7 linked regions of the Homo sapiens genome follow. The protein of the gene in region 1 purifies or fractionates together with the protein of each later gene. This does not show direct contact. Each region holds a gene or a part of one and is shown in the gene's direction. Other genes may lie near its edges. The genes, in order: PPP2R2C, PABIR2, MTCL1, DCAF10, ZNF746, PPP2R1B and TCP1.

Region 1 (4,062 bases):
GCTGTATCCCTAGGGCTGTTTTTTTCTCTCCGGCCGTTTTCTTCTCTCCATGCTTCCCCATCTCCGCTCCTCCCTGCTTCTTCTTACACACTGGCCTCATCCTCTCCCTCTTCAGAGATGACCCCCAAATCATTCCCCTTTCCATTATCCTCAGCCAGCCAACCCCTCCCAGGGACTGTGTAAAACTCTCATGGAAGGATCTGATTGGCTCTGTGTGGGTCACTTGCCCACTTTTTGCACCAATCAGCATGGACAGGGATATCACATGCCCAAGTTGGCCAGGCCAAGGGGCGAGGAGAGCACTGTGATTGACCGCTCACAGGGATAGGGAGTGCAGTGGCGCCATCTCGGCTCGCTGCAACCTCCGCCTCCTGGAGTCAAACACTTCTCCTGCCGCAGCCTCCCAAGTAGCTGGGATTACAGGCGCCACGGGTGGCGAGGGCAGGAGCCTTTCTTTCCCCAAAGGAAAGAGGAGCGGAGCACTGGGGCTGAAAGCAGCCGGCGTTGTGGTCCCACATGCAGATGAGGCTAGGAGAGGTGAAGCAGCTCCCCTGCCCTTTTCCCTGTTAAGGGAACCTTCTGGAATTTAAGAAACCTGCCTGAATGTGAGGAATGGCTCTCATGGTGGTGCGGCCTGGTGCTCTAGGATGAGAGGGGCCCCTCCCTCTCCCCCAGAGCACGTGTCAGCTGAATTCCACACCCGAACAGGGGGAGGATCAGGAACTGTGTGGGTTGCAAATGACTTTAATTATGTCGCTCTCCTTCCACTAAATGGATCAGAAGAACCAGCATTGTGTGAAATCACCCAGGTTCATTCTGTGAACTGTTCCCTGAAGAACAAAGGGGGCTGCCTCCCCACTGTGCTGGCGCGGGGAGGGTGTGGCCTCCCCCAGTCAGCCTGTGGCGCCTGGGCAGGGCCCTTCTGTGGGACTCGTTCACCCGGCCCCCCTCGCATGCTGCTTCCCTTGTCCCAGGCTCTGAGTCACATATAAAGCGGGTGCGGCTTTGGTCACATGGACGATTAGGATCGAGGAGTACCTGGTAAATAACAAGAAGCAAAGTGCCTCAAGCCCAGCACTGTGCGGGGTGTTCAGCCTATGTCCCCTGATTCACGCTCACCAGGGGCTGCGTTCCCTTGTTGATCCCAGTTCTTATAGAAAACTAAGAGAGTGCGCATGTCAGGGTAGGGCAGAGCTGGGATCCGGACCCAGGCGGACTGGCCAGAGCCCAAGCCCCTGACTGCAGTGCCGGAGCTCACGTGTGAGCTTTTGTCCTCTGTGCATAACCCCTGGAGACCCAGGGATCCACCTGGTTCTGTCACAGAGCAGTGTCACCCTCAGGAAGCCCAGCTCAGCTTCCAAAAGGAAACAGGATTTCCTCCCTGAAGAGCCTTCAGCAGGACAACTTCTTTATGGTCGCTTTTCGTAACATCCTCTTCCTCCCCAGTTACCTTGCACCTCACAGCTGCTCCAGGGCCCTGCAGAGGCCAAACCCCAAAACCCTCCCTCTGGGCGCAGGCCCACAGAACTGTGCTTTCTCTCCTGCCTCTTACTATGTGGATGAACTTACCCTTCCTCCCACCGGCAGGAACCCCTTCTCCTTAGGAGCAGGGAGAGCAGAGAAATGGTGTGGAATTCTCTTTAGCGGGACGGTGAGGGCAGCGAGCCCCTGCACGTCAGCACTGCTCGCCCCGACCCTCATGGCGATGCATGTTTGTTTATTCGCCCGAGTCCTCGGGACAGGCGGGCCCCTGGAGGGAAGCAGGGCCTGGTGGTTTTCTGTCCCAGCTGCTTCCATGTCTACCTCCTGCTGTGGTTGCACAGTCTGTTTGGAAGGCCAGAGCTTTCTCTCCTGGACTAACAGAAATTACAGGAGGGTCTTTTCTTTTCTTTTCTTTTCTTTTTTCGAGACGGAGTTTTGCTCTTATTGCCCAGGCTGGAGTGCAGTGGCGCGATCTTGGCTCACTACAACCTTGCCTCCTGGATTCAAGCAACTCTCCTGCCTCAGCCTCCTGAGTAGCTGGGATTACAGGTGCCCACCACCATGTCCAGCTAATTTTTGTATTTTTAGTAGAGACAGGGTTTCATCATGTTGGCCAGGCTGGTCTCAAACTCCTAACCTCAGGTGATCTGCCCGCCTTGGCTTCCCAAAGTGCTGGGATTACAGGTGTGAGCCACCACGCCTGGCCAGGAGGGTATTTTCATGATGATTGGGGCAGAGGATAAAAAGGATCTTAGCTCCTGGCCCCAAAGTCTGCATGTTGGTGGCAGCTGACATGTGAGGGGGTATAAGAGACCCCAAGATACAGGGGAATAGAGGCAGGTGTGGTTTCCCTTTCCAGGGAGTGATGGCTCTGTAGGCTCTGGGATTGCTTTTTCATTTGTTTGTTGTTTTGGGACAGAGTTTTACTCTGTCACCCAGGCTAGACTGCAGTGGTAAATCACAGCTCACTGCAGTCTCTGCCTCCCCAGGCTCAGGTGATCCTCCTGCCTCCCCAGGCTCAGGTGATCCTCCTGCCTCAACCTCCTGAATAGCTGGGACTACGGTCATTTTTAATTTTTTTTTGTAGAGGTGGAGTCTCGCTATGTTGTCCAGGCTGGTCTTGAACTCCTAGGCTGAAGCAATCCTCCCACCGGGGCCTCCCAAAGTCCTGGGATTATGGGCGTGAGCCCCCACACCTGGGCTTATTTCTCGAGAAGGGGCTTGTGCTCCTCCTCACCTGATGCCTCTCCTTCTCCCACCAGCGTCATCATGACCGGGGCCTACAACAACTTCTTCCGCATGTTCGATCGGAACACCAAGCGGGACGTGACCCTGGAGGCCTCGAGGGAAAGCAGCAAGCCCCGGGCTGTGCTCAAGCCACGGCGCGTGTGCGTGGGGGGCAAGCGCCGGCGTGATGACATCAGTGTGGACAGCTTGGACTTCACCAAGAAGATCCTGCACACGGCCTGGCACCCGGCTGAGAACATCATTGCCATCGCCGCCACCAACAACCTGTACATCTTCCAGGACAAGGTAAACTCTGACATGCACTAGGTATGTGCAGTTCCCGGCCCCTGCCACCCAGCCTCATGCAAGTCATCCCCGACATGACCTTCACGACCGCAATGCAAGGAGGGGAAGAAAGTCACAGCACTGATGAGGACAGCTGCAGAGGTGGCAGTGTGTGGACACAGGAAGTTTGGGCCCCCTCCCTGCCCCAGCTTTCCTAGGCCAGAATTGTGTTTGGCAGTAATTGTCTGTTTAAAAAAATAAAAAGGAAAGGAAGCGTTCACCGCCACAAATCATAAAATGGACATGACTGTGGAGTCTTACAGTTCAGGGTTCTTTCATTCACGTCCCTTCCTGTCTCGGTCTGCGGTCTTTACCACATCAATAGGACTTTTTATGCGTCCGGGTTAATTTTTCACTCCAGTGCGTCCTGTTGCAGGGACCGGAGCTGATGGGAGCTGCTTCTCCCCCATGCCTCACTGGTCCCAGATCAGGGCTCCAGGGACAGATGATGAGTCTCAAACGAGCCAGCCAGGGGTTCTTTTGGTTATAAATGGGGCAATTCGCCCTGTCTCAGAGCTGATGACCTCACCGTTGTTTTTTGGATGGTGAATTCATGCTGAGAATTTGCAGATGCAAGCTCCTCTCCTAGGTCTTCTGAATGTCTTGAAACATCCCAGGTCCCAGGTCTGGTGCGGTTTCCCGAGAGGAGCGGAGTGGGGTTTGTCTTCTGTGTGCCTGTGTCCTCATCTGATTCACCTGCCATTTGCTGAGCCTCTGCTGTGTACCAGGCGTGGTGCTCAGCCCTAGAGGCAGTTGACTTACCCTCTGCAGCCCTCCCTGCCGCCTCACCCTTCAGCATTCACTGGGCACCTTCCCGGAGCGGACACTGACTCCCATGCACGATTTTTTGGAATCTTCCTCCTGACTGTGAGGTGGGTGTTCATTCATTTCCTCCATAAACACCAACTTCTCGAAGCGTGCCAGGCTCTGGGCTGGATGCTGGGGATAAGCGGGAACCCTTAGGATCCCCTCTGTCCACGAGAAGAAGCTGAGGCTCTGAGCGGATGC
Region 2 (4,062 bases), on another chromosome or scaffold:
GAGGTCAGGAGATCGAGATCATCCTAGCCAACATGATGAAACCCCGTCTCTACTAAAATACATTTATCTTATACTCCAGTCTCCCTTAATGGTTGTAAAAATTCGCTGGGCATGGTGGTGTGTGCCTGTAGTCCCAGCTACTCAGGAGGCTGAGGCAGGGGAATCACTTGAACCTGGGAGGCGGAAGTTGCAGTGAGCAGAGATCATGCCATTGCATTCCAGCCTGGGCAACAAGAGCGAAACTCTGTCTCAAAAAAAAATAAAAAGAAACTTAGAGCATTTTATCACTATTTTATACTGCTCACTACATTAGTATTCAAATAAGTTTTAATAGTGTAGGGCCTCTTAAACAGGATAATTGTTATTTGGTTTTATAGTATTACAAGTTCACTTGCATTTCGTTATAGAATAAATAGTAGTCGTTTATATTATGACCACTAGAACTCTCTAAGACCTGTTGATATGAATTGTGTCTTACAGTTTGTGACCAGCTTGTAATTATTGTGAAGGAACATAATTTGGCCTCCAAATCATTTCTGCTTTGTGTTATTAAAAAATGATGATCTAAGGGAAAGCATCAGTTATTTTAAAGATACACCTTGTCTTTCCAAATTGTTTTTTGTTAACTAGTAAGATTTGTAGTGATAGCATATGATGAGATTTTAGAATGGATTTGGATCGTGAAAGCAAAACCTCCTTATTGCAGTTTTAAAGTGTTTTTGAAAATCATCAATCATAGACAAAATATTATATACTAGACTTATTAGCCTGTCTTCCCCCATTGCTGCATTGATAATAAAAATTAATAACATTGGTGTTTTTTTTTCTTTCCCTTCTCATATTGTTCTTTATTTTAGATAAGTGGGATAATGGATATTTCTAAGGCCCATAGTCTTTATTTCTCTAAATTTACGTAGCTTCACATTCATTTGGGAAAAGTGCTGAAGTCAGTGTCTGTCTAGCAACAGATGGCGCTTTGAGGTTGGACACCTGGTGTACTTTTTGAAGACTAAATGTACTGCCTTTAGTGCATTAACGTTCAGTGATCTAAAGAGCTAAATTTTGAAGAAGAATATGAAAACTTACCTAGGAAGAGGTTGTACGCCAGTACTGACAGCAGACTGCTGCTTTGTGATTCAGAAAATAGTAAATGTTTACTTTTTCTTTCCAGTTGCTGTCATCCTCACCTAATCGTATTCCTAGTAGCAGACTGCATCAGATCAAAAGGGTAAATTTTACTTACTAGCTCAGATTGGAAATTTTTTGGATTTTACATTTTTATTTTAAAGACGTAGATATTAAAATGAATTAGGATGCAACTCTGGTTAGTTGGAGACAGATTATAATTCTTCTGGAGCGTGTAGATAAAATATACAAGCGGCATGAATGTTCCACTCTACTGTGATTATGTCAATGAGGTAGAAAAAGTCTTTTTATTTTATTTGAAGCAGAGAACTATGTGGATAAAAATTGCAGTGTGTGGAAGAGTTAATATTTTGTCAGTGATCCTGCCTTTTTAGCATATATGTTTGTCTTTGCAGGAAGAAGGCCTGGATATGGTGAACAGAGAAACTGCACATGAAAGGTTAGTGCTTTGCAAGAGCAGGGCCTAGCCTAATAAGTGTCTTGTTTGTAAACACTGACGGCCCTTCCCTTTGTTTATTTTAGGGAAATGCAAACGGCAATGCAGATAAGCCAATCATGGGATGAGAGCTTGAGCCTGGTAAAGTTTGCTCATGTCTGTTTGGTTTTCATTTTCTAGAAACTTTTATGTTGTTCACTAGGTTCATTAATTTTTTCGCACACTTCTTTCCCCTTCTACTTCCAAATTGATACTTGTTTTTTGATCTCTGCTTTTCCAGCAGAATATTAGAGTCTATACCTTTCTCCTTGGAAAATCTGGGTGTGTTATAGTAGTAAGTAAGAGCTGTGATGTGCTGAATTTATTATGAGGAGATGACACTTTATGTTTACAGAGTGACAGTGATTTTGACAAGCCGGAGAAATTATATTCTCCTAAGAGAATTGACTTCACTCCAGTTTCTCCAGCACCTTCACCCACCAGGGGATTCGGAAAGGTAGGATAACTGACAAGATATTAAGTGTATTTCACAAACTGAGCTGTTTACTCTAAAACACACACAAATCACCCCACTTTTAAAGTATCCAATGCCTTGAAGGAAAATCAATGAAAATCTACAGCAGTAATTTGGAAAATATACATATATATATGTATATTCTTGGTCTTCTTAAAATATATATATATATAACATATATATTACATATATATAACATATTACATATATAACGTATATATTACATATATAACGTATATATAACACATATATAACATATATAACACATATATAACGTGTATATATTACACATATATAACGTGTATATATTACACATATATAACGTGTATATATTACACATATATAACGTGTATATATTACACATATATAACGTGTATATATTACACATATATAACGTGTATATATTACACATATATAACGTGTATATATTACACATATATAACGTGTATATATTACACATATATAACGTGTATATATTACACATATATAACGTGTATATATTACACATATATAACGTGTATATATTACACATATATAACGTGTATATATTACACATATATAACGTATATATTACACATATATAACGTGTATATATTACACATATATAACGTGTATATATTACACATATAACGTGTATATTACATATATATAACGTGTATATTACATATATATTACATATATATATATGTAATTTAGTTATGAGACACACAGACAGCCAAGCAATTCTAAAGATATTGTTTCTGTCATTTTGAAAAGAACCTTTTGAAAATGATTGTGGGCCTGGTATGGTGGCTTATACCTGTAATCATTCCAACTCTTTGGGAGGCCAAGGTGGGAGGATCACTTGAGCTCAGGAGGTCGAGAGCAGCCTGGGCAACATGGCGAGACCCCATCTCTACATTAAAAAAAAAAAAATAGATACAAAAAAATTAGTCGGGCATGGTGGCGCACACCTGTAGTCCTAGCTCATCAAGAAGGTGGGGCAGGAAGATGGCTTGAGCCCAAGAGTTCGAGGCTGCAGTAAGCTATGATCGCATCACTGCACTCCAGCTTGAGCAAAAGAGAGACCCTGTCTCTAAAAAAAAAAAAAAAAAAAAAAAAGAAAGAAAACTGGAGTGCTAGAACTATTTTAATATTGAATATGTTTTTTCTAGTAATGTTTTTCACCCTTCTTACAGATGTTCGTGAGCAGCAGTGGATTGCCACCAAGTCCAGTTCCCAGTCCAAGACGATTTTCAAGGTAAGCAAACTTGAATTTTAAATGTGGTTGAAGTACCATTCATTACATTTATCTCTCAGATTAGCTTTTTGTGGCTGGGCGCAGTGGCTCACACCTGTAATCCTAGCACTTTGGAAGGCCGAGGCTGGTGGATTACCTGAGGTCAAGAGTTCAAGACCAGCTTGGCCAACATGGTGAAACCTCGTCTCTACTAAAAATAGAAAAATTAGCTGGGCCTGGTGGCAGGCGCCTGTAATCCCAGTTACTCGGGAGGCTGAGGCAGGAGAATCGCTTGAACCAAGCAGGCGGAGGTTGCAGTGAGCTGAGATCGCACCATTATACTCCAGCCTGGGCAACAGAGCAAAAACTCTGTCTCAAAAAAAAAAAAAAAAAGAAGATTAACTCTTTTTCCCAATATTTCACTGTGAAATTTTCAGACATCAAAAGTGAAAGAATTTCACAGTGAACAACCATATACCCACTGCCTATAATCTACCATTAACATTTTAACCAGAGTTTTTTCTTTTCTTTTTTTTTGTATTTGAGGTGGAATCTCACTCTGTCGCCAGGCTAGAGTGCAGTAGTGTGATCTCAGCTCACTGAAACCTCTGCCTCCTGGGTTCAAGCATTTCTCTTCCCTCAGCCTCCCAAGTAGCTGGGATTACAGGCATGCGCCACCACCCTCGGCTAATTTTTGTATTTTTAGTAGAGATAGGGTTTCACCATGTTGGCCAGGATGGTCTCAAT
Region 3 (4,062 bases), on another chromosome or scaffold:
AGGCACTTTCTTAATGCTGAGGACTTTGGTAAAGCGCTGGTGTGTTCCTTCCCTGCCAGGCTGCCAAGACTGTGTTTTGCTCGAGTGCTCGGAGACAGTCAGACAAGCCGGAGTGCTCGTTGTCAACATATTAATTATGTTCTCTGTTTCCACAGGCTTTTCAGGAGGATTTAATCAGTTGGCATTTATGAGCCTATTTTGAAAATGCTTTTAGCAGCCATAACCCCACACCTCCCCCACCCCCAAATAGTGTCCTCTTGCCATGCTGACCTCCTGCAGGGTGGGTGAGGATTGGGGTGGGAAGAGCTGTTTCTTTTTGCTTTGCTTTGCTTTCTCAGTTATTTCATAGGAAATATTTTTCTGTTAAAAGAAAACAAGTTGGTGCTAGATACAAGGGCAGAGAAAATTGGCTTCTTGGAGAGGAATGATTTCCTAAGGGAGAGGTTGAGTTTTGGTTTTATAGGTTGCAGTGTCTCACTGCTGATCCAAGCTTACCATCCTGCTTCTCATTGGAGTTAGCCTTTTGAGTTTCAGGCCCTGACCTGGTTTTTGACATTTGGCAGCTGGGCTGCCCAGATGCCGGGTGCTCAGTGTGGCCTGGGGGTGGAGGGGCACTTGGAGAGGAGCGCAAGCAGTGCTCTGTAGCTGAGGTGTCTCAGCGCCTCCTTGCTCCCCGCCTCCTCCTCCTTTCTCTTTCAGAAGGGTTAACATGGACAGTATTCCCCATTCTTTCCTGACATTCGCTGTCCATACCCACTCTGTATTCAGCCACTGAAAGAGTGGCTATGATCATTTTCAGTGGCAGTTAATGTAGACAAGGGCTGCGGCCACCAGCTGCTGGCTGGACCATCACCTGGTAGACAGTGGGAGTCGCCCTGCACCTCCTTAGTTACAGCTGGGACTCTTGGAGAACATTTCCCTTGTCTGGAGGGAAATGAGGTGGATTATTCGTATGTTACAAAAGACAGTAGTTTCTGTCTGCCCAGAAGATAGAATTATTGCAGCAGTAGCCAGAGGACTCCTTCTACCATCCAAACTGGGTCTATTTAAAGAGGAGGTGCTAAAATAGAGATAGTTACTGATTTTGGGTATTTAAAAGAGATTAAGATTTTCATATAGTTATTAACATGATTAAGAGTTTTCATCACTTATACTAAGAAGCCATGGATTTGACTTTTATTATATATTCATGGATAAAACTATCCTTTTAGAGGTTTTCATTAAAACATATAATTTTAATCTTGGTTTACTCTAGTGCACACCTGGTACCTCATTATTCCTCTAATTTGAGATACATGATAAGGCTTGATTTGTCAGCCACAGGCAAAGGGGAATAGTCGACTGGACTTCACAGTACTTCAAGATTTCGTTTTATATACAAAACTTTAAAAAGGTATTTAATTAAAACTAGCTTTTCAATGAGATAATGATTTAATACTTAAGTATCCTCCAGACTTGATGTTAATTCAGTAAAAAACTATTAAGGACAGCTTTTTCTTATTTCCGTGTATAAAAAGACAACAGCGATTTTCCAATTTTATGTACTATCTCTAAATTACACCTGTCAGAAACATCATATGCTCTGCTCGATTTGGTTTACTTAAATTTTTAGTTGGCAGATGTCATTAAGGTTCTGCAATACAGTTTTCTAAATTGGAGCATGCCGTCAGAAAATTAATGTAATGTTAGTTTGAAAATCACTATCCATCATGACCCTAATTCCAGTAATCATAGTTTTTGCTTTTCAGATGGCTGCTGCCAGCTTACATGGTTTATAATTTGCTTGTCTTTAACTTCTTTTCACTGAACCTGAAAATTACTTTTTTCTAGGCTCTCTGGGAAGAGTTGAAACACTGGCCCTGGTCCTATTGCTGCAGCAGACCAATAATGGTGGAAAGCCATTTATACTTTTAGAATCTCAGTTTCCTCGTTTTAAAGATGGGAGTATTAGCCAGGCATGGTGGCATGTGCTTGTAATCCCAGCTACTCAGGAGGCTGAGGCAGGAAGATCACTTGAGCCCAGGAGCTCAAGGTGGCAGTGAGCCATGGCTGCACCACTGCGCTCCAGGTTGGGTCACAGAGTGAGACTCTGTCTCTTTAAAAAAAGCGGGGAAGGGGCACGGATATCTTTACCGCACGTTGCAGTGTCTTCCTAAGAACCAGTTGCCCTAATGGATATGCTTTGTGTCGTCACTTGTCGAGCTGTAAATGTTAGGCTGCTTTTTTTGTTTTACACTGATGGTGGACTTTTAAAAGTACAATTGAAGGTCTGTTATTGTTTCATTTGTCCAGGTTGAAGCAAATAATTTATGGTATTTACTCGAAAGAGTGTGTGATTGAAAGCAGACAGGCCTGGGTTTGCAGTGTGGCTTCAATTTACTAGATGTGAAGCTTTGGACACAGGTAACTAGCCTCAGTTTTGTTTTTTTGTCTATCAACTGCATAATGTGTTCCTGACAGGGTTATTGTAGGGTTAGTAATGAGGGTGAGGTGCTTAATAAACGACGCCTGTTCTGTAAATTTAGGTAAAATATGAATTATAAGAGCAGTGATTTAAATACATGCCGTTATGGTGCATTGGTCCATTTTTATACTTCTGTGAAACACTAGACTGGGTAATTTATAAAGAAAAAAGGGTTTAATGGACTCACAGTTCCACATGGCTGGGGAGGCCTCACAATCATGGTGGAAGACAAAGGAGGAGCAAAGACACATATTACATGGAGGCACGTAAGAACGTGTGCAGGGAAACTGCCGTTTATAAAACCATTAGATCTCTCTTGAGACTTACTCACTGTCACGAGCAGCAGAGGAGAAACCCGCCCCCGTGATTCAGTTACCTCCCACTGGGTCCCTCCTGTGACACGTGAGGATTATGGGAGCTACAGTTCAAGATGAGATTTGAGTGGGGACACAGCCAAACCATATCATATGATCTCTCCCTAATTTTCTTTTCTCTTTTTTTTTTGAGGTGGAGTCTCACTCCATCGCCCAGGCTGGAGTGCAGTGGCGCGATTTCCACTCACTGCAAGCTCCACCTCCCGGGTTCACGCCATTCTTCTGCCTCAGCCTCCCGAGTAGCTGGGACTACAGGTGCCCGCCACCACGCCTGGCTAATTTTTTTTATTTTTAGTAGAGACAGGGTTTCACTGTGTTAGCCAGGATGGTCTTGATCTCCTGACCTTGTGATCCGCCCGCCTCGGCCTCCCAAAGTGCTGGGATTACAGGCGTGAGCCACCGCACCCGGCCCCTAATTTTATTTGCAGTACAACTAATGTTGGTGATTATTTGTGCCAAAAAATATTGCTATTTACATCTGGTCTGCTCAATGATGTGGAGGTGTGGGTGCATCTAGCCCTTGAACAGTTTTCATAGCCTGTAACATCTGTATGAAAATGCAGCATTTAACATTAGGGTGGATGTGGGCTCTCCAGTTGCAAAGTCTGAAAGCTAGAGACATTTTATACCTGGAAGCTGTATCTTGCATCTTAGGGCTATATTGCATTTTAAAAACTTTTGTCTTAGTTGCCGATAATCCCAGGCATTAATGACTTTGGCAGGCTTTCTGGAAAGAAAAGCAATCACAAACCATTCTTTCCATGAACAGAATGGCCAGAGTCACTGTATATTTGTATGTGTGGATATACATGTACATATACATATACAGATATTGACTTAGTGTTGAACATTTAGTGATTATTGCTTGTATTGAACTGATTTGTATTAATGACTCAGTGAAACAATTAACCTCTTTACTCAGAAACAAGCATTGCGGTTAGGTTCTTTCTCAAAGTCTGATCCATTAGTTTCATGGATGGGGTGTGAATCAAACTTGACGTTGATTTTTGAAGATTCAGAACTAACTTCCCACTCTATCGAAAGAGTGACAACCACAAGGCTCATTTTAAAGCTTTCAGTCTCCAGTTGACCTCCTCTAGGAGTGGGTAGTGCAGGGGCACAGCTCCCATAGGGCGTCTTCAAAGCCTCAGTGATCAGGCATCAGTAACAACCTCCTGTTTGTGGAAGGTTTGCAGAAGGTTGTCAAGCACTGTCCTGAAAGAG
Region 4 (4,062 bases), on another chromosome or scaffold:
GATGAGGCATAGTAGAGTCTATGATTGGCAATGTCTCCCATCCCTTGTTTTGACATGCCTTTATGTGAGGTGTCCTTTCTTACCTCCAACATTTTATTTTTTGTTTATAGTGTTGTTATTGCAGGTGCTTAAGTCCTGATCTTTTTATTTGCTTAAAAGGCAATCCTCATGGCTTCCAAGTATTTCCTTCTCTGGACCAGAAAGCACCAGGACCAATGAGAGGAGAATTGTTACCTTTTACCTTTCTAGAGTCCTTTCATGTCACATAACTTTGGTTCTTACTTAAATAAAGAGCTTTCTGAGATGTAAGATCCAAATAAAAGAACCCCTAGTCAGCTTCTATGCCTTAGCCTTAGGTCAGTGACAATTACTGCTGTGGGAACTTGGATCTTTTGTTCTATTTATACCCTTTCCCCACACCTTCACCCCGCCAAAACTCACACACCATACATTGGGGAGTACCACGCTCTTTAACATATGGTAGCATAAGGGGCAGACTAAGGAATGACGGCATGGGAGGTGGCTGCCAGAAATAAAAAGCTTTGATGAACTGCCTTAGTTTTTTGATAATACAAATCCCACATCCTCATTTTCTTATATCTCAGGAGTTTCACCACGAAATAGTCTTGAAGTCGTAACCCCTGAAGTTCTTGGTGAGAGTGACCACGGAAACTGCATCACGTCCTTACAGCTGCACCCAAAAGGCTGGGCCACTCTTCTTCGGTGCTCAAGCAACAGTGATGATGAGGAGGTACAGGCAGCAGCACTCCACCTTCAACAGGGCTCATTGGACAAATTGCCATTGCCGTGTGTGCAGAGCTTAGGCCGATCGCTGACTGCAGTCTCTGCCTTCAAGGGCATACTGCTAGAGATCCTGCTTCTCGACTCTCCTGTTTCTGTCCTCTCTTGCTTCATATGGTATCATTATCCCTTCCAAACTCTTCTTATTCCTCTCCTGCTGGGGTTGAGCAAGGTGGGAGGTACTTTAAAGGCCAGCATCAGCTCAGTTTTTGCCCAGCTTCTTAAATCTTGCCTCTTTCATCTCACCCTAAACAAACAAACAAACAAACAAACAAAAACCCCTTGTATAATAAACATAGGTCTGAAATGTTTCAGCTAAGCTGGCTAAATGTGAGATTTTACTAAGCCAATTGAGTATCATAATTTTCTTTTTTTAAAAACCAGGGGAAACTCTGGGAAAGGAAGGGACTATACTGATGACTAGGGGGAAAGGTGTTAAATGACTTTATGATTCTCATCACTCTGGAAAGCAAGAGTCTTCCAAGGATCTCACTGGTCCTAGAGGCCACAACTGAAAGGAGAGAAGAGAAGAGCCTTTGAATTGTGTAGGGGAAGAGGTAAGATACTCTAGGGCTTGGATGTACTCCAGGAATTTTTAAAATATCAACATTGTTGTTGCCCTTAGAAAAGAGAATGTATTACTGCAAAAGTCACAGGCAGCCTCAGGGAACAAAAGGCTTTAAAGCATCATAACACAGAATAACCTCAGCTTATGAAGATAAGAAAGTAGGGGGCCTACAAGTTTTGTTAGTTGGGAGGGGGATAGCATTATTCTGAGTGATTTCTTGTAAAAATTCTGTGGCTTTGGCAATCTGTTGAGCTTTTTAAAAATAAGGAATATCTGTAGCACTATTTGGGCTCTGTAACCTTGGTTTGTCTCCCTTCTCTCCCCCTAGTGTACTTGTGTCTATGAATTCCAAGAAGGAGCTCCAGTGCGACCTGTCTCACCTCGCTGTTCTCTACGACTGACTCATTACATTGAAGAAGCCAATGTAGGCAGGGGTTACATCAAAGAACTTTGCTTCAGCCCCGATGGACGAATGATTTCTTCCCCACATGGCTATGGGATTCGCTTGTTGGGATTTGACAAACAGTGCAGTGAACTTGTTGACTGCTTGCCCAAAGAAGCCAGTCCCCTGCGGGTGATCCGTTCTCTGTACTCTCATAATGATGTGGTACTGACAACAAAGTTCTCTCCAACACATTGTCAGATTGCCTCAGGGTGCCTTAGTGGACGGGTTTCTTTGTATCAGCCAAAGTTTTAGGCACAACTTACATCAAATAAGGAACTCTTCTGGTGTTTGACTTAGGAATTGCTTCAATTTAGATGAAGTATTTTCTTTTTAGAAGATCTTATAAGTTTGGGTCAAGATCCTGGTTCTTATGGGTCCATGAACACACTTGTGACCTTAGTACTTGGTCATCCAGCATCATACAGGCATCTCCAAGTTAGACTCTATGCAGCATCATCTTTTGCAGCATTCCTCTGCTCCTGCTGATCTGTGCCACTGAACTCCAGTTCTTCTGGTCATTTTGCATGGTAGCTCTTGTCACGTTCCTTCCTTCCTCACTCTCTATTTCTCTTTCCCTCTCCCTGTCCCTCTCTTTCTTTGTGTTTGTTGATTTTGGTGTCAATTTTGTGGACATTTGGCAGGAGTTTTGACTGGGGTAGGAGAAACCCATGACATTAGAATTGAATAAAACCTAGAAGTTGGATATTGGCATATTGGTTGTTGAAAAATAAATTTCATCCTCACTTATGAGTATACTTGGCCTTTTAAAGTTACTGTTATGTTTATCTATATTGAGCACAGATAATGGCATTATTCTTATAATTGTTAAGATAGTCTTGCAACAAAATGTCTTTTAAGTTTCCTGTTAAAATTATAAAAAGATTTTCATGGTGAGAGGGATTTTATTGTGAAATTCTAGAAAAAAATATTACCACCTCTCTTTGTAATTTACTTTACTTGTATGAATTTAACATCTCTAGCATGTATCCTTACTTGATATTTTGTTCCTATCAACAGCATTAGAAAGGAAAGGAGACAGAATGAGCTTTGGTTATTTCTATTGCACAGAAAAGGATTTTTAAAATTAGATTAGTATAATATCTGGCCATAGAGTGATAAGAACAATATGACTTAGATTTTCTGTATTTCATCTGCCAGATTATTTGAATCACACAGGATGATGTGTTAACAGTATTAGGGTGGAAGAGGAATCAAGAGTAAAGAGGTAGGGGTTTACTCATTTTTCTTCCCTGAGCCAGGTGTGACAAGCCAACTCTGTCACCATTCGTGAGGGGAGAGTTGCAGTCCTCTTCAAGCTGTTATCATAAGTACAGTAGTCAGCTACTTGGATATCAAGACTAAGTGCTGATATGAAGACTTGCCTTTGTGTTTTGTTATGAAACACGCAAGCATAAAGCAGGACTCAAGCACAAGGCTGACTGTTCTACTTTGAATAACAGCTTCCTTGCAGTCTCCTCCACATGGGTGGTACTGTGTTTAGAAGGGATTACCAAAGGCTGGAGCGATTTAAGCTATGCACTAGCCTTGCCCTCTTAGGTTGCATTCTCTTTAGGCCACTGGTTCTCAAACATTAGGGTGCACTGTAACCATTACAGAGCTTGTGAAAAGTGCAGAAACCTGAGCCTCACCTTATGAGATTCTGATTCAGCCAGGGGGAGGACAGGAATCTGTATTTTTCATAGCAACCTCAAGTAATCTTTATTCTGAGGGTCTCGGGATTGCAGGTTGAAAAACACAACCTTAATCAGCAGTAAATTCTTCTCTACTCGGCCAGGCGCAGTGGCTCATGCCTGTAATCCCAGCACTTTGGGAGGCCGAGGTGGGTGGATCACAAGGTCAGGAGTTCGAGACCAGCCTGACCAACATGGTGAAACGCCATCTCTACTAAAAATACAAAAATTAGCCGGGCGTGGTGGTGCTCACCTGTAATCCCAGCTACCCAGGAGGCTGAGGCAAGAGAATCACTTGAACCCGGGAGGCAGAGGGTGCAGTAAGCCGAGATTGCACCACTGCACTCCAGCCTAGGCGACAGAGCGAGACTCTGTCTCAAAAAAAAAAAAAAAAAAAAAAAATTCTTCTCTACCCATTTGGGCTTAAGACAATTCCCAGAAAGTGTTTTCATTATTTAAAAAATAATAATAGTAAATGAAAGCAATTTTAGAGGTGGAAAATACCTTAGAATGGAATCATTTGCATTATTTGACAAATGAGAGAAGTGACATGACTT
Region 5 (4,671 bases), on another chromosome or scaffold:
CTTTATTTCTAATGCACTGTATTTCTGTCACCCAGTGGTGTGATCTCCACTCACTGCAACCTCTGCCTCCCGGGTTCAAGCGATTCTCGTACCTCAGCCTCCCCAGTAGTTGGGATTACAGGTGCGTGCCACCACGCCTCGCTAATTTTTTCTATTTTTAGTAGAGACGGGGTTTTGTCATGTTGCTCAGGCTGGTATCAAACTCCTGAGCTCAGGCAATCCACCCATCTTGGCCTCCCAAAGTGTTAGAATTACGGGCGTGAGCCACTGCGCCCGGCCCTAAAATGCTTTATATCTTCCTACATCAATTTTTTTTTGGGCTGTCATCCAGCTCACACCTCTACTACCACCCTCTGGTCTGAAATGCTCTCTGCCTATCAATATTTTGCCAATTCTTCAAGATCCAGCTCAAATTTTATCTATTCTGTAAGGTCTGCCTTCTTTGAAAAAGATTACAGATCTCTCACATATTTTCTTATCAGTGTGTGCTAGGCAGTTGGCTAGTTAGTCTTGGGGAATACACAGATGAGCAAGTCGTGTTCCTGAAAGGCAATGAGCCTCTGAAACTACGTGGGGGCCCGTCCAAGGCGCCCTCCTTCCCCTGCTCTGGTTGGCCTCTTTGAGAACATTTAAATTTTTATTTTTCTCTCCTTGTTTAAAAATACTATCCTTGTCATGGAAAAATAAAAACATGAATTGGAAAAAATTAGAAAAGGCATAAAAACGGCCCGTGGTCTATTAAAGGAATAGACCTTTAATAGAACTACTGAGGCCATGTTGATATATATGCTTCCAAACTTTTCAAAACTGTAATTATACATGTACGCAGTATATGACGCTACATATGTCCTATATTGTTTTAAAATGTTATTTTTAAAACAAAGACAGGATCGTCCTGGACAGGCTTTTTCTCTTAAAACATCATGAACATCTGTTCCTACCAAGACCTTCACCGAAATCATTTTAAATGATGGTATTGCGTCCCATTGCTCATGCCATTAAAAAAATTTACTGTAATAAACCCATTACAGAAAATGCTAAGTGGTTGCCTACCGGGGTTTACCGAACTATATTCCTGTTGTTGGAAGTATTTATTCCATTTCAAACACAGGTGGGCATGAGTTACATCTGTCCTCCCCAAAATAGCCTAAACCTCCAGACCCAGGACCTCGGGCAGCAGAAGTGCCCGTGGGGCGGGGGAAGGGGAGCCGGGCATCCCAGGGCGAGGGGGCCGCCCTGGCCGCGGTCACCCGGGGGACGCCCTGCCCGGAAGCCCGTGCTCGCCCGCGGGCGCGGCCAGGCGGGTCCCATGAGGGGGACCCTTTCAATAACCGAGTCCTCGGGCTGGGCCGCGGGGCCAGCGCAGTGACTCCCCCCGCGCTCGGCAGTCCGGCCGGGGTCGCGGGGTCGCGGGGTCGCGGGGTCGGCCCGGGGTCGCTAGGTCCTCCCGTCGGGCCCCGCGGGCGGGGCTGGGCGGGGCGGGGCGGGGCCGCGGGCAGGCGGGCGCAGCGCCTGCCGTTCGCCTCTCAGGCTGCAGGTGGGGCTGTGCGGCCGCGCTGCCTCCAGGAAGCCTCACGGGCCTTCGTCTGCCGGGCCGCGGCGCCGGCTCCCAGGATGCAGTGTGGACCGGCCGGGCGCTGACGGAGGCGGCGCGACTGCGGGCGGCGCGGCGCAGGGGCAGCCAGCGAGGAGCGGCGGCAGAGGAAAGGCCAGGCAGGCGCCGCCTGCGGAGAGCACCGGGCGGCCGGGCCTGCGTGGTGCCGCGCGCGGCGGCGGCGACGACGACTTCCTCCGGGCCGGGCGGGACAGCGCAGGGCCATGGCCGAGGCGGTCGCGGCTCCGGTAAGGGCGACCCGCGCGCGCAGGGACTCGCGGCCTGGGGGCCCCAGGCGGCCCGGCCCCGGCACACGGCGCCGCAGGCCCTGGGGAGGGGTTCCGGGGTCCGGGCCGGACCACCGGGCCTGGGGCTCCCGCGAATGGGGCGCGGGGTCCGCCGGGGCCTACTGCGCCCGTCGGCCGGGCCCCCACTCCGAGCCGAACCCGAGCGCTGGCGGAACGGTTGTCCCCGCCCCGGGCCGCCCCACGCCAAGTTCTTTGGGCCCTCCGGGGCTTCCTGCCCCCGCCCCAGCCGCTGTCCCCTCCTTCTGGGTGCCCCCCCACCCGCGGCTCCTTTCTCTGCCTGGCGCTCGGCCTGTAGGTCCCTCTCCATCTCCCCCGCAGCGGCCTGGTGGCACCTGGGAGGTGTCCGGCTTCGAATCCGCATACACCGACTCCCACTACGTGCCCAGCTTCCCGGGGTCGGCGCGGAAGGGAATATAGAGCCACGCACTTCCACAAGCCCTGTTGAGGCGTTAGTCTGTCCTCACAGCAAGCCTGTGGGATGGGTACTGGTGTTAATCTCTGTCATACAAAAGAAAAACCCGGGGCCTAGAGAACTTAACTTGCCCAGGCTTACCCAGCTGGAAAGTGTGAAAAGACACACAGTGGCTGTGTGTTCAAGGACCAGGCAGGCAGGTACGCGGGCAATAATCGTGCAAAACAGAAAGGGGTGAGTGCTGGCGCCCAGGTGGAAGCTTGCGGTGGGCTCCGGGGGAAGGAGTGTCAGGGGGCCTCTTGGTACCGCTGTCCACCCCTCCTGGCCTGATGCTCTGCGCCTCTGTGATTTGAGCCGGGCTTTTAGGGAAGGCTAGGATTTCAGGCCCAGCTAGACCGGTGGTGCTTTCAGGGAGGGAGGAGTGCCTGGGCAAAGGCGCAGAGAGACGGGACAGTGCAGGGCGTGTGCAGGCACAGAAAGGAGTCCATGAGCCTGGAGAAGATGGTTTTGGTTTGGAGGCAGTGGGAAAGGAGTCTGCAGAGAGAGACTAAGAAGGGGTTTGCATGCCTGGACTTCATCCTGCGGGTGGGCAGTGGATGAGGGATCCGGCTCCTCTTACCATCAGCTCCTCTCAAGCAAAGAGTTTCAGCTCCCCTGGCAGGAGTCCAAGGACAGCCCCACATATTCCAGCCACTTGTCAGTAAGAAGCTGGGCTGGAGTGAGCAGCGCACAGTCGCCACCTCCCACCACATAGTGTGAAGACCTTACACAGGGTTTCCTGGCCCCATCAGAACTGTAAGAAAACCATGCACCTTGTTGTCCATGAGTAAAAGACTAATATTTTCTTAATAAAGTAGTTTAGCAGAGGTCCCTTTCATGCCACACAAAGCCCATAATAATGCACGTGGAGGATGGGTAGGATTTCAGTGGATAAGGAGCTGGTGACCAGTTGAAAGGAAGCTTCTGGAGTAAACTCTTGGCGTCTGGGATCACGTGACAGGGATTGATCTGAGAAAGGAGAGGTGAGGGAAGGAACAGTGGCCTTAGGTGGAGGGTGGACTCAAGCCCAGAACCACGCTGGCCCACCCAGGTGCTGTAGGACCACCTACTCCTTGAGAGCAAGACTCCCACCCGCATTGGGGTTTTCGCCTAGAAACAGTTCAGCTTGTCCAGAATCTCCCAGCCTTGAAGACCCCTTAGAGTCCTACCTTCTTTGGGTCCTGCTTCCTTCCAAATAGATAGTATCTTAAGCACTGTCCTAGACAAGTTTGTTTCTCCCTCTGCTCAAACTCTCCTTTTGTCTCTATTTTTTGAGCTGTCCATCCGCATTCTAGTTCTCAGTGACTTTCTCTAAGTGAATCCACACTGGTTTCTAGTAGCTACTTCTTCATTTTGGAAATAATCACCAACCTTTTGTTGAGGAATTATTTTGCAGAATGTTGTAAGGAGGCGTTGATCCTCAGGTCCCGATACCAGGAGCTCCTCTGTGCCCTGTAGGTCCCACATTCAGATGTGGGTGGCTCAAACAGTCCAGCTCCCTACCCACCGCAAAATGTGCCCATTCTTCCTTGTCCCAGCTGCCGGTCACTGATACGCCATGTGAACATTTCCAATGACAGGGAAGGCCCCCGTCTCTAATTAAGATGGTTGCTGTCCATATACAAGTCTAACTGTGGCATATATGTACTTTCCTCACCAGACTGCAGGGTATGTCACTGCTCCTGGTACAGCTACAAAAATGTCGGAGGCCGTCATTTTTACCTTGAGGGGGTGGGAATTGGGAAAGAGAAAGAATCTTGTAGGGCTCAGGCAGTGTCAAAAAGCCTAACTCTGGACTGATGGAGATTTGCAGTCATGGGGATTTTAGCTTGTGGGGGAGGGGCAGATGGGAAGGTGACAAAATGAGACTGTCCTGGGGGAAGAGGAACTGGCCATTAGATTTTTATGTTTGTTAAAAGGGGACATGAGATGCTTTAAAAAACAAAAAAAGAAAAAAGAAATTGAGCAATACTCTTGTTTGTGCCGTTTCAGTGAACCAGCTGTTTTTTTTGCTGGGTCATCATCAGTAGACAGTTCCTGTGTAATCATGAGGGGAGGTGCAGGCTGCGCTCTAGTAAATCTGCAGTTTACCATTTCTCCACTAAAATGCCCAGCAATGCTAAGTCACTGTTTACGTAACAAAATTGCACTGGGTACCTGCCATGTGTCAAGGACAGTGGTATGAAAAGATGCAATACCATGTTCAGGGAGCCCACAGTGTAGGTGTGGGTAGGAAATTATTGTGTAGGGTGATAAGCACCGTGATAAGGGTCTGCATTGTGCTGCAGAGGCCTGGAGTAAAGGCACCCACCCAGACA
Region 6 (4,062 bases), on another chromosome or scaffold:
TGTCTGTGTGTATGGGGGGCAGGTTTATTCAGTGTTATTTGATGGGAAATACCTTCATTGTTTTATGTTGCAGGCAATTCCGTTCCTTGTGCTCAGATGACACACCAATGGTACGACGTGCTGCTGCTTCCAAATTGGGTGAATTTGCAAAAGTTTTGGAATTAGACAGTGTGAAAAGTGAAATTGTTCCACTGTTCACTAGTCTAGCTTCAGATGAACAGGTAAACTAACTCTTAGTATTTAAGGGACACAGATATGCTCCTTTCCTCTAAATTTTCAGAATTTCTTTGGGGAGTTTTAGTTTTCTTGTTAGGATTCTTTTTACAGAATTAGTGCTGATTCTGGCCTGGTTAAAGTGTAACATGCTTATCTCAATGTTCTTATGTTTCTTTCTTAACCAGACCATGATTTCTCTCTTACATTAGCAGCTGTTAAAAGAGTGGGGAGTCAGAGAGGAAATGGGAGCCATAATTAGAAAGGAAGACCAAAGCTGCATGGAGGGTAACATACCTTTGGGAATTGCTGGCTGTATTGTAATATGAGGGAGTAATGTTTCCTGGAATTTTTGACTTTTCAGATAAATAAGCTTAGAATGTGTTAGGAAAGCTATTTGACTCTCTGCTTCTTCTATAGTAGTGTATGGGATTACTTCACATAATCGTATTCAATTCTGAAGATCTAGATCTCTTTGGTGTAGAAATAACAATAAAACTAGCAAACATCCAAATGAAGTACTTAATTTTTCTCTGCCTTTAAGTAGTTATGTGTATTAAGTAATTCAGTCCTTACAACAGCCCCATGAGATAGCCCATTTTACACATTAGAAAACAAAGGCACAGAAAGTTTAAGTAACTTGCTGAAGTTTGCATAGTTAGCAGTAGTGGAGTCAGAATTTGAATCTAGGTGGTTTGGCTCCAGAATTTGTGCCCTTCACAGCTAGGCTGTCCCGCTTCTCTGTAATGGTGCTTAATAGGATCAGCTCCCAGAGTTCCTGGACTCTAGAATAGTCCTTTTGGGCTTTTAATTTGCATGTTGCCTGCCCTAAGATCGCTTCATGTGTACAGGACCACAAGCCCCAGGACACATATTAATGAGTCTCATTTTCAGATCCTAAATCTAAAGATCTAAATCCTACTTTGAAAATAATTTTAAAAATTATTAGAATTTTTATTCTAATAATAAATGTACAAAATGAATGTATAACTTAATGAACTATTAGAAGGTAATACCAACTTGTTAACGATCACCTATGATAGGAGACATCACTTTGACAGCCACTATCCCAGAATCCCTCCATGGATTCCCTTTCAAACACAATCTCTCTTTCCTCCTCCACTTGCCACTCCATTTCCTTAAGAGTAACATTATCCTGACTTTTATGGTAAGCGCAGCCTTTGTTTTCTTTGCACTTTTTCTTTTCTTTTCTTTTCTTTTTTTAAAAGGAGTCTCACTCTGTCACCAGGCTGGAGTGCAGTGGTGCAATCTCGGCTTTCTGCAACCTCTGCCTCCCGGGTTCAAGCAATTCTCCTGCCTCAGCCTCCCAAGAAGCTAGGACTACAGGCGCATGCCACCACGCCAAGCTAACTTTTGTATTTTTAGTAGAGACGGGGTTTCACCATGTTGACCAGGATGGTCTCCATCTCTTGACCTTGTGATCCGCCCACCTTGGCCTCCCAAAGTGCTGGGATTACAGGCGTGAGCCACCGTGCCCGGCCTTCTTTGCACTTTTATTACCTAAATGTTATAGTTTAAAACAGTGCTTTACAACAGAAATATAATGTAAGCTACCTGTTGATTTTAAGTTTTCTACTGGCCATGTTTTTATAAGAAAAAAGAAATAGGTGAAATTAACAATATTTGTATTCGACCAAAATTTTCCAAAATCTTATTATTTGAGTGTAAATAACGTGTACCAGCCACATTTCAAGTCTCAGCATGAGATGATGTTGTTAATAGGGTGGTAGTGAAGATGGAAAGGATTTGGATGTCAGTTTGGAAGTGGGATCAATAGGTTAGTATTATTGGATTGGATCAGTGGGAGAGGAATCAAGATCTCCTAGATTTTTTGCTTGAGCAACTGGGTGGATGATGGTGTCATCGTTAAGATAGAGAAAATTCTGGGAAGAGGAACAGGTGTAGGAGAGAAAACGAAGTTCTGGAAGAGAAGTAATTTTTTTTTTTTTTTTTTTGAGATGGAGTTTCACTCCTGTCGCCCAGGCTGGAGTACAATGGCATGATCCCAGCTCACTGCAACCCCTGCCTCCCGGGTTCAAGTGATTCTCCTGCCTCAGCTTCCTGAGTAGCTGGAATTACAGGCGCCTGCCACCATGACTGGCTAATTTTTTGTATTTTCAGTACAGATGGGGTTTCACTGTGTTGGGTAGGCTGGTCTCGAACTCCTGACCTTGTGATCTGTCCGCCTTGGCCTCCCAAAGTGCTGGGATTACAGGTGTGAGCCACTGCACCAGACCAGAGAAGTAATTTTTTAACAAATATGTATTAGCTTATATTTCAGTAGTTGATTAGCAGTCCCATGATTTAGCATCATTTTCGAAATTCAAAAATATCTGTGTAGTCACTACCAAGAACTTAGTCCTGTCTTTTTTAGCCTGTGCACCTGCATACAGAGGAATGTGTGTGTCTTTGGCATATAGTCAGTTATTGTTGATACACAGTTTCTAAGATTTGTAATATTTTGGAAGTTGGAGTCACTGTTATGTCTCTCAAGTATGTGTATACGTATATACATAACTGTTATTGTACACACTTAAAATTTTTTACCTATTTCTCCTGGGTGCTAATGTTTACATGTATTAAGATTCTACCTTATATATGTATAATACACAAATCTACAGTCTCAATTTCTAATTTCTCATTGATGTTTCTTTTTTTTCGGTGTTTTTTTTTTTTTGAGTTGGAGTTTTGCTCTGTCACCCAGGCTGGAGTGCAGTGGCGCGATCTCGGCTCACTGCAGCCTCTGCCTCCTGGGTTCAAGCAATTCTGCTGCCTCAGCCACCTGAGTAGCTGGGATTACAGGCACGTGCCACCATGCCTGGCTAATTTTTGTATTGTTAGTAGAGATGGGGTTTCACCATGTTGGCCAGGCTGGTGTTGAACTCTTGACCTCAGGTGATCCGCCTGCCTCGGCCTCCCAAAGTGCTGGGATTACAGGCATGAGCCACTGTGCCTGGCCCCTCACTGATTTGTCTTGTATATTTTCCACTTGTTCAAAGGACGTAGGTGTCACGTTGACATTGGCTGTTTACATTTGGAAAGTTGAGTTCATTAATCCCATACTTTTCTAATTTCTGTGTTTTTCTAGCCACAGCTTCCTCAAAGTTATTCTGTCCTTGATCTTCGACATTTAAATCCAACTGATTTTTGTTTTTGATTTCTAACTTTTAATTGTTCTGTGTATTTCTTTCCAAGTCATTATCTTATGCTGCCTACACTCCTGTTACTGCGACCCTGATCTGAGTTTTTTGAAAACTAAGCTTTCTAAGTGATTTCCTTTACTCTTACTCTTACCTTTGTCCTAATCTGTTATAAATAACTTGTACAAATATTGTTTTCATTTTTATCCCTCAACTTTCTGTTATAGTAAGGCTTTGAAGGCATCATTAAAATGTTTTTTTTTTCTTTTTTACTTAATTTTAAAATTTTCATTTCCTTTATAGAAACTCTGCATTCTAGCCAAGGTAATTACTTTGCTGTTTACTCATAGTACAAAGTCATTTCTATCTTTATGACTTTGACATGCCATTCCAGGCAAAGGGAGCAGCTCTTTCTTTTTTTTTTTTTCCTTTTTGTTTTTTGAGACAGAGTGTCACTCTGTCGCCCAGACTGGAGTGCAGTGGTGCAGTCTCGGCTCACTGCAAGCTCCGCCTGCTGGGTTCACGCCATTCGCCTGCCTCAGCCTCCCGAGTAGCTGGGACTACAGGCACCCGCCACCACGCCTGGCTAATTTTTTTTGTATTTTTAGTAGAGATGGGGTTTCACCGTGTTAGCTAGGATGGTTTCCCTCTCCTGACCTCGTGATCCGCCTGCCTCAGCCTCCCAGAG
Region 7 (4,062 bases), on another chromosome or scaffold:
CTTCTTCATACATCCTTGTGCTATAGGTACTCCCTATCGTACATCTTTACAGGCAGATGTCATGAGTGGTTTACTACACAAAACTTCTCTGGTGCTTTTCTTCTCATCCCTTTTCAGCCCTGTTCTCCATTTGAGGGACTGCATGTTAAGGTCTCTAGCGTGAAATTCGGAAGACATTTTCAGCCTTCCTCTTACTTGACCTTTAGCAACCCTTTGATTATGTCCTTCTTGAAATGCTTTCGGGGATGGAAGGCTTTGTGATGCTGCTTTGTCTGGACCATGTCATAATACTCTCCAGGATAGCCCCTTTGTTCCCATGACTTCATGTATTATCTCTCTATGCCAGAGACTCTTTCAGCTGTTTCTCTAAGCTCCAAACACACATACCTCTATCTAGTAGAATGCTTTTCAAGCATCTCAAAGTGAACATGTCTAAAACTGAACTTGTGATAATACCGCAAATCTGCTTTTGACCATTTTAGTGATGGGGAGTCCTTCACACAGGCAGAAAACTAGGAAATGTCCTTAACTCCTCCTTTTTACCAACACTTTTTCTCCTAATCTGTCACCAAGACCGCTTGATTTCTACCTCCAAATTAAATTTACCTACTTTTCATTTTCTTGCCTAGACTGTTGTAGAAACACACCCAAGCTAGTCTCTTAGAGAAGCTTTTCTTTCTTCTTCAATCTAAATTATATTCTGTTGTAACTTCCTGTATTTTTTCTTCCTGGGGCTTATTACAGTTTTTACCATGAGTTTATATAACAGTGTGTAGCACACAGTACTTGTTTAGTAGACAAGCTGCTTTTGAGGTTGATCTGTAATTCATTTTACTTTAAAAATTCTTCGAATGATCTATTCACATGGCTTCACTCATATTGACTCTTCAAATCTGGATCTCCCATAGTTTATGGTTTCCATGATGTAAGTGACTGCCTCCTGGGAGCTTCACCTGAGTAACAGCAGAGACTTCAAACTTAATCTTGTCCTCAACTAAACTCTCATTTCCCATCCTGCCCCCAAAACTCTTGTTATTTATTTTACTCCAGGAGTCACCCAAGCCATAAAATTTGACTTTTCTGTTTAGGTTGTCTTTCAGCTTATATCTCATGTTATTATCTTCTTGTCTTCAGCCATTCAGTGCAGTTTCCACATTGATAATCAGGGAATCCTTTTGAAAACACAGATGATATACTAGTCTTGCTTAGAGATATTAAGCTTAGTATCTAGATTGTTTGGTGTAACCTGCAAGGTTTTTCACTTTTCTGGTTCTGCCTTCTTTTGTGCTTTCAACTCTGGACTCCTGTTTTTGTTTGTTTGTTTGTTTTTGAGACGGAGTTTTGCTCTTGTTGCCCAGGCTGGAGTGCAGTGGCACGGTCTCGGCTCACTGCGACCTCCGCCTTCCGGGTTTAAGTGATACTCCTGCCTCAGTCTCCTGAGTATCTGGGATTACAGGCGCCCACCACCAGGCCCAACTAATTTTTTGTATTTTTAGTAGAGGCGGTTTCACCGTGTTGGCCAGGTTGGTCTCGAACTCCTGACCTCAGGTGATCTGCCCGCCTCAGCCTCCCAAAGTGCTGGGATTACAGGCGTGAGCCACTGCACTTGGCCTGGACTCATCTTCATTGTCCACCTCCTAGGCTAAATTTATGTCTTTTATGTGCTTGTAATCTCTGCATACCACTTTAGTGACACTTGCCCTGGAGTGTGATTGGTAATCCCTCTCCCCACTAGATCCTTGAAGGCAGGACCTGTGTTCCCTGTTTAACCATAGTTCTCAATTAGTAATTCAAATTTGGGTTGGGGAGAGCTAAGTGGTAATTTTTAATTCCTTCAAATTTTCCATGAATTGGACTAATTTAAATTCTGGTCAGAGATAACAAAGGATAATACAATTTGATCTATGATTATCTTGTGATAAATACTTAATGGAAGTTAAATTATTTTTAAAAATCACAGAAGGTAACTCAGGTTACAAAAATACTTTGCAGAGAATCAGATATCACCAAGGAGAGAATTCAGAAGATCCTGGCAACTGGTGCCAATGTTATTCTAACCACTGGTGGAATTGATGATATGTGTCTGAAGTATTTTGTGGAGGCTGGTGCTATGGCAGTTAGAAGAGTTTTAAAAAGGGACCTTAAACGCATTGCCAAAGCTTCTGGAGGTATGTCTTGTGCTGGCTGTCACATAAAATACTTTTATTATCCCTGATCCTATCAAAGGTCTTTTTACATTGGAATATTGACAGAAAACAGCTCAAAAACATTTATATTCTCTTAATGCTTTGTGCTACCAACACATTTATAGAGCCATTTTTCATGTAACTGGAGAAATTTTGTTGGAAATTTGTGAACTGAATTTGTTCATTTCTAAAATGACAGTTCCATCTTAGGATAAAAGGAGTTACCGTGTGCTGCCTAACTAAATTCTAAACTTGTAATATAGCACTTTTACCACAAATGCTACTGAGTCCAAGGATATTAAAATCATGAAAGAGCAATATTCACAGATCCTTTGTAACTCTCTTATTAGCAACTATTCTGTCAACCCTGGCCAATTTGGAAGGTGAAGAAACTTTTGAAGCTGCAATGTTGGGACAGGCAGAAGAAGTGGTACAGGAGAGAATTTGTGATGATGAGCTGATCTTAATCAAAAAGTAAGAGCCACTTTCTAAAATTGTAAAGTTATACCGATTTTGTTAAGTAAAAGTAGGTTTTCTTCCCATTTATTTGCTGCTTGTAGTCTCACAGTGATACGAGCAGTTATACGCATGGGATAAAATAACATTGGGCCACTGTAAATTGAGATGAAGTAACCATTTTCATCTCTTCTGCAGGGACTAGACATTGTTTCTGTATAGTATATCTAAATATCCTGTGTAGGCAGGACTTAAGGGAACTTTATGTAGACTTATTTTATTAAAATGCCATTTTTTTTGAGAAATTGATGGTCTTGGCAAAAAAAAATTTTTAAAAATGCTATTACAAGAATTGTACTTTTGTTTTGAACAGTACTAAGGCTCGTACGTCTGCATCGATTATCTTACGTGGGGCAAATGATTTCATGTGTGATGAGATGGAGCGCTCTTTACATGATGCACTTTGTGTAGTGAAGAGAGTTTTGGAGTCAAAATCTGTGGTTCCCGGTGGGGGTGCTGTAGAAGCAGCCCTTTCCATATACCTTGAAAACTATGCAACCAGCATGGTAAGAACAGTCATTTCTTGTCTTAGAGGCCTGAGAGCAGTAGCTGTGGACTTCAATTTTTTTTTTCCCTTTTGTGAAGTCACCTAATTTTCTTCTTTTCCTAGGGGTCTCGGGAACAGCTTGCGATTGCAGAGTTTGCAAGATCACTTCTTGTTATTCCCAATACACTAGCAGTTAATGCTGCCCAGGACTCCACAGATCTGGTTGCAAAATTAAGAGCTTTTCATAATGAGGCCCAGGTTAACCCAGAACGTAAAAATCTAAAATGGTAAGCATGGTTTCCCGCTCTTTGTTAACCTCTGCAGAACAGGTTGCATTAAAAAGGATAGTAGTCAATTACATGTCAGCAAACATAAGTAACAGACTTGTCAAATACTTAACATGAAAAACTTCACAGCAAGCATTTGTTGTTCAGTCACTGTAATTCAAGGGATAATGACTAATTATTAGCACTGGTGTGTCTTCGTTAACTGTGATTGCTAATCTCTCCCTGCTTCTTTTGGTAGAAAGACTACCTACAAGATCTCTAGTCTGATTTAAAAATCAACCTTAATACTTGAATGAAATGCTGGAGTTAATAGGCCACCTAATGAAATTGTAAGCGGCCGTTAAATAATTCTTTCTTAATTGCAGGATTGGTCTTGATTTGAGCAATGGTAAACCTCGAGACAACAAACAAGCAGGGGTGTTTGAACCAACCATAGTTAAAGTTAAGAGTTTGAAATTTGCAACAGAAGCTGCAATCACCATTCTTCGAATTGATGATCTTATTAAATTACATCCAGAAAGTAAAGATGATAAACATGGAAGTTATGAAGATGCTGTTCACTCTGGAGCCCTTAATGATTGATCTG

Evidence for each region.
Region 2: the proteins of PPP2R2C (region 1) and PABIR2 purify together in Homo sapiens (affinity purification with mass spectrometry; 4 studies listed by BioGRID and IntAct, with this or other methods). This does not show direct contact.
Region 3: the proteins of PPP2R2C (region 1) and MTCL1 purify together in Homo sapiens (affinity purification with mass spectrometry; 4 studies listed by BioGRID and IntAct, with this or other methods). This does not show direct contact.
Region 4: the proteins of PPP2R2C (region 1) and DCAF10 purify together in Homo sapiens (affinity purification with mass spectrometry; 4 studies listed by BioGRID and IntAct, with this or other methods). This does not show direct contact.
Region 5: the proteins of PPP2R2C (region 1) and ZNF746 purify together in Homo sapiens (affinity purification with mass spectrometry; 3 studies listed by BioGRID and IntAct, with this or other methods). This does not show direct contact.
Region 6: the proteins of PPP2R2C (region 1) and PPP2R1B purify together in Homo sapiens (affinity purification with mass spectrometry; 6 studies listed by BioGRID and IntAct, with this or other methods). This does not show direct contact.
Region 7: the proteins of PPP2R2C (region 1) and TCP1 purify together in Homo sapiens (affinity purification with mass spectrometry; 6 studies listed by BioGRID and IntAct, with this or other methods). This does not show direct contact.

The regions. Positions count from the first base shown.
Region 1 is NC_000004.12:6,322,276-6,326,337, reverse strand, and holds part of PPP2R2C (protein phosphatase 2, regulatory subunit B, gamma), read left to right. Parts: intron 1-2,744; coding exon 2,745-3,036; 3' UTR 3,037-4,062. UniProt on the Homo sapiens protein: The B regulatory subunit might modulate substrate selectivity and catalytic activity, and might also direct the localization of the catalytic enzyme to a particular subcellular compartment.
Region 2 is NC_000023.11:134,786,746-134,790,807, reverse strand, and holds part of PABIR2 (PABIR family member 2), read left to right. Parts: intron 1-1,171; coding exon 1,172-1,228; intron 1,229-1,541; coding exon 1,542-1,585; intron 1,586-1,668; coding exon 1,669-1,723; intron 1,724-1,976; coding exon 1,977-2,078; intron 2,079-3,274; coding exon 3,275-3,336; intron 3,337-4,062.
Region 3 is NC_000018.10:8,711,847-8,715,908, forward strand, and holds part of MTCL1 (microtubule cross-linking factor 1), read left to right. Parts: intron 1-2,295; exon of another isoform or gene 2,296-2,403; intron 2,404-4,062. UniProt on the Homo sapiens protein: Microtubule-associated factor involved in the late phase of epithelial polarization and microtubule dynamics regulation.
Region 4 is NC_000009.12:37,859,443-37,863,504, forward strand, and holds part of DCAF10 (DDB1- and CUL4-associated factor 10), read left to right. Parts: intron 1-605; coding exon 606-751; intron 752-1,185; coding exon of another isoform or gene 1,186-1,218; exon of another isoform or gene 1,219-1,358; intron 1,359-1,697; coding exon 1,698-2,066; 3' UTR 2,067-4,062. UniProt on the Homo sapiens protein: May function as a substrate receptor for CUL4-DDB1 E3 ubiquitin-protein ligase complex.
Region 5 is NC_000007.14:149,494,684-149,499,354, reverse strand, and holds the start of ZNF746 (zinc finger protein 746), read left to right. Parts: upstream 1-1,545; 5' UTR 1,546-1,818; coding exon 1,819-1,842; intron 1,843-1,990; exon of another isoform or gene 1,991-2,548; intron 2,549-4,671.
Region 6 is NC_000011.10:111,755,963-111,760,024, reverse strand, and holds part of PPP2R1B (serine/threonine-protein phosphatase 2A 65 kDa regulatory subunit A beta isoform), read left to right. Parts: intron 1-73; coding exon 74-221; intron 222-4,062. UniProt on the Homo sapiens protein: The PR65 subunit of protein phosphatase 2A serves as a scaffolding molecule to coordinate the assembly of the catalytic subunit and a variable regulatory B subunit.
Region 7 is NC_000006.12:159,779,041-159,783,102, reverse strand, and holds part of TCP1 (T-complex protein 1 subunit alpha), read left to right. Parts: intron 1-1,992; coding exon 1,993-2,168; intron 2,169-2,536; coding exon 2,537-2,660; intron 2,661-2,721; exon of another isoform or gene 2,722-2,853; intron 2,854-3,015; coding exon 3,016-3,208; intron 3,209-3,312; coding exon 3,313-3,476; intron 3,477-3,841; coding exon 3,842-4,058; 3' UTR 4,059-4,062. UniProt on the Homo sapiens protein: Component of the chaperonin-containing T-complex (TRiC), a molecular chaperone complex that assists the folding of actin, tubulin and other proteins upon ATP hydrolysis.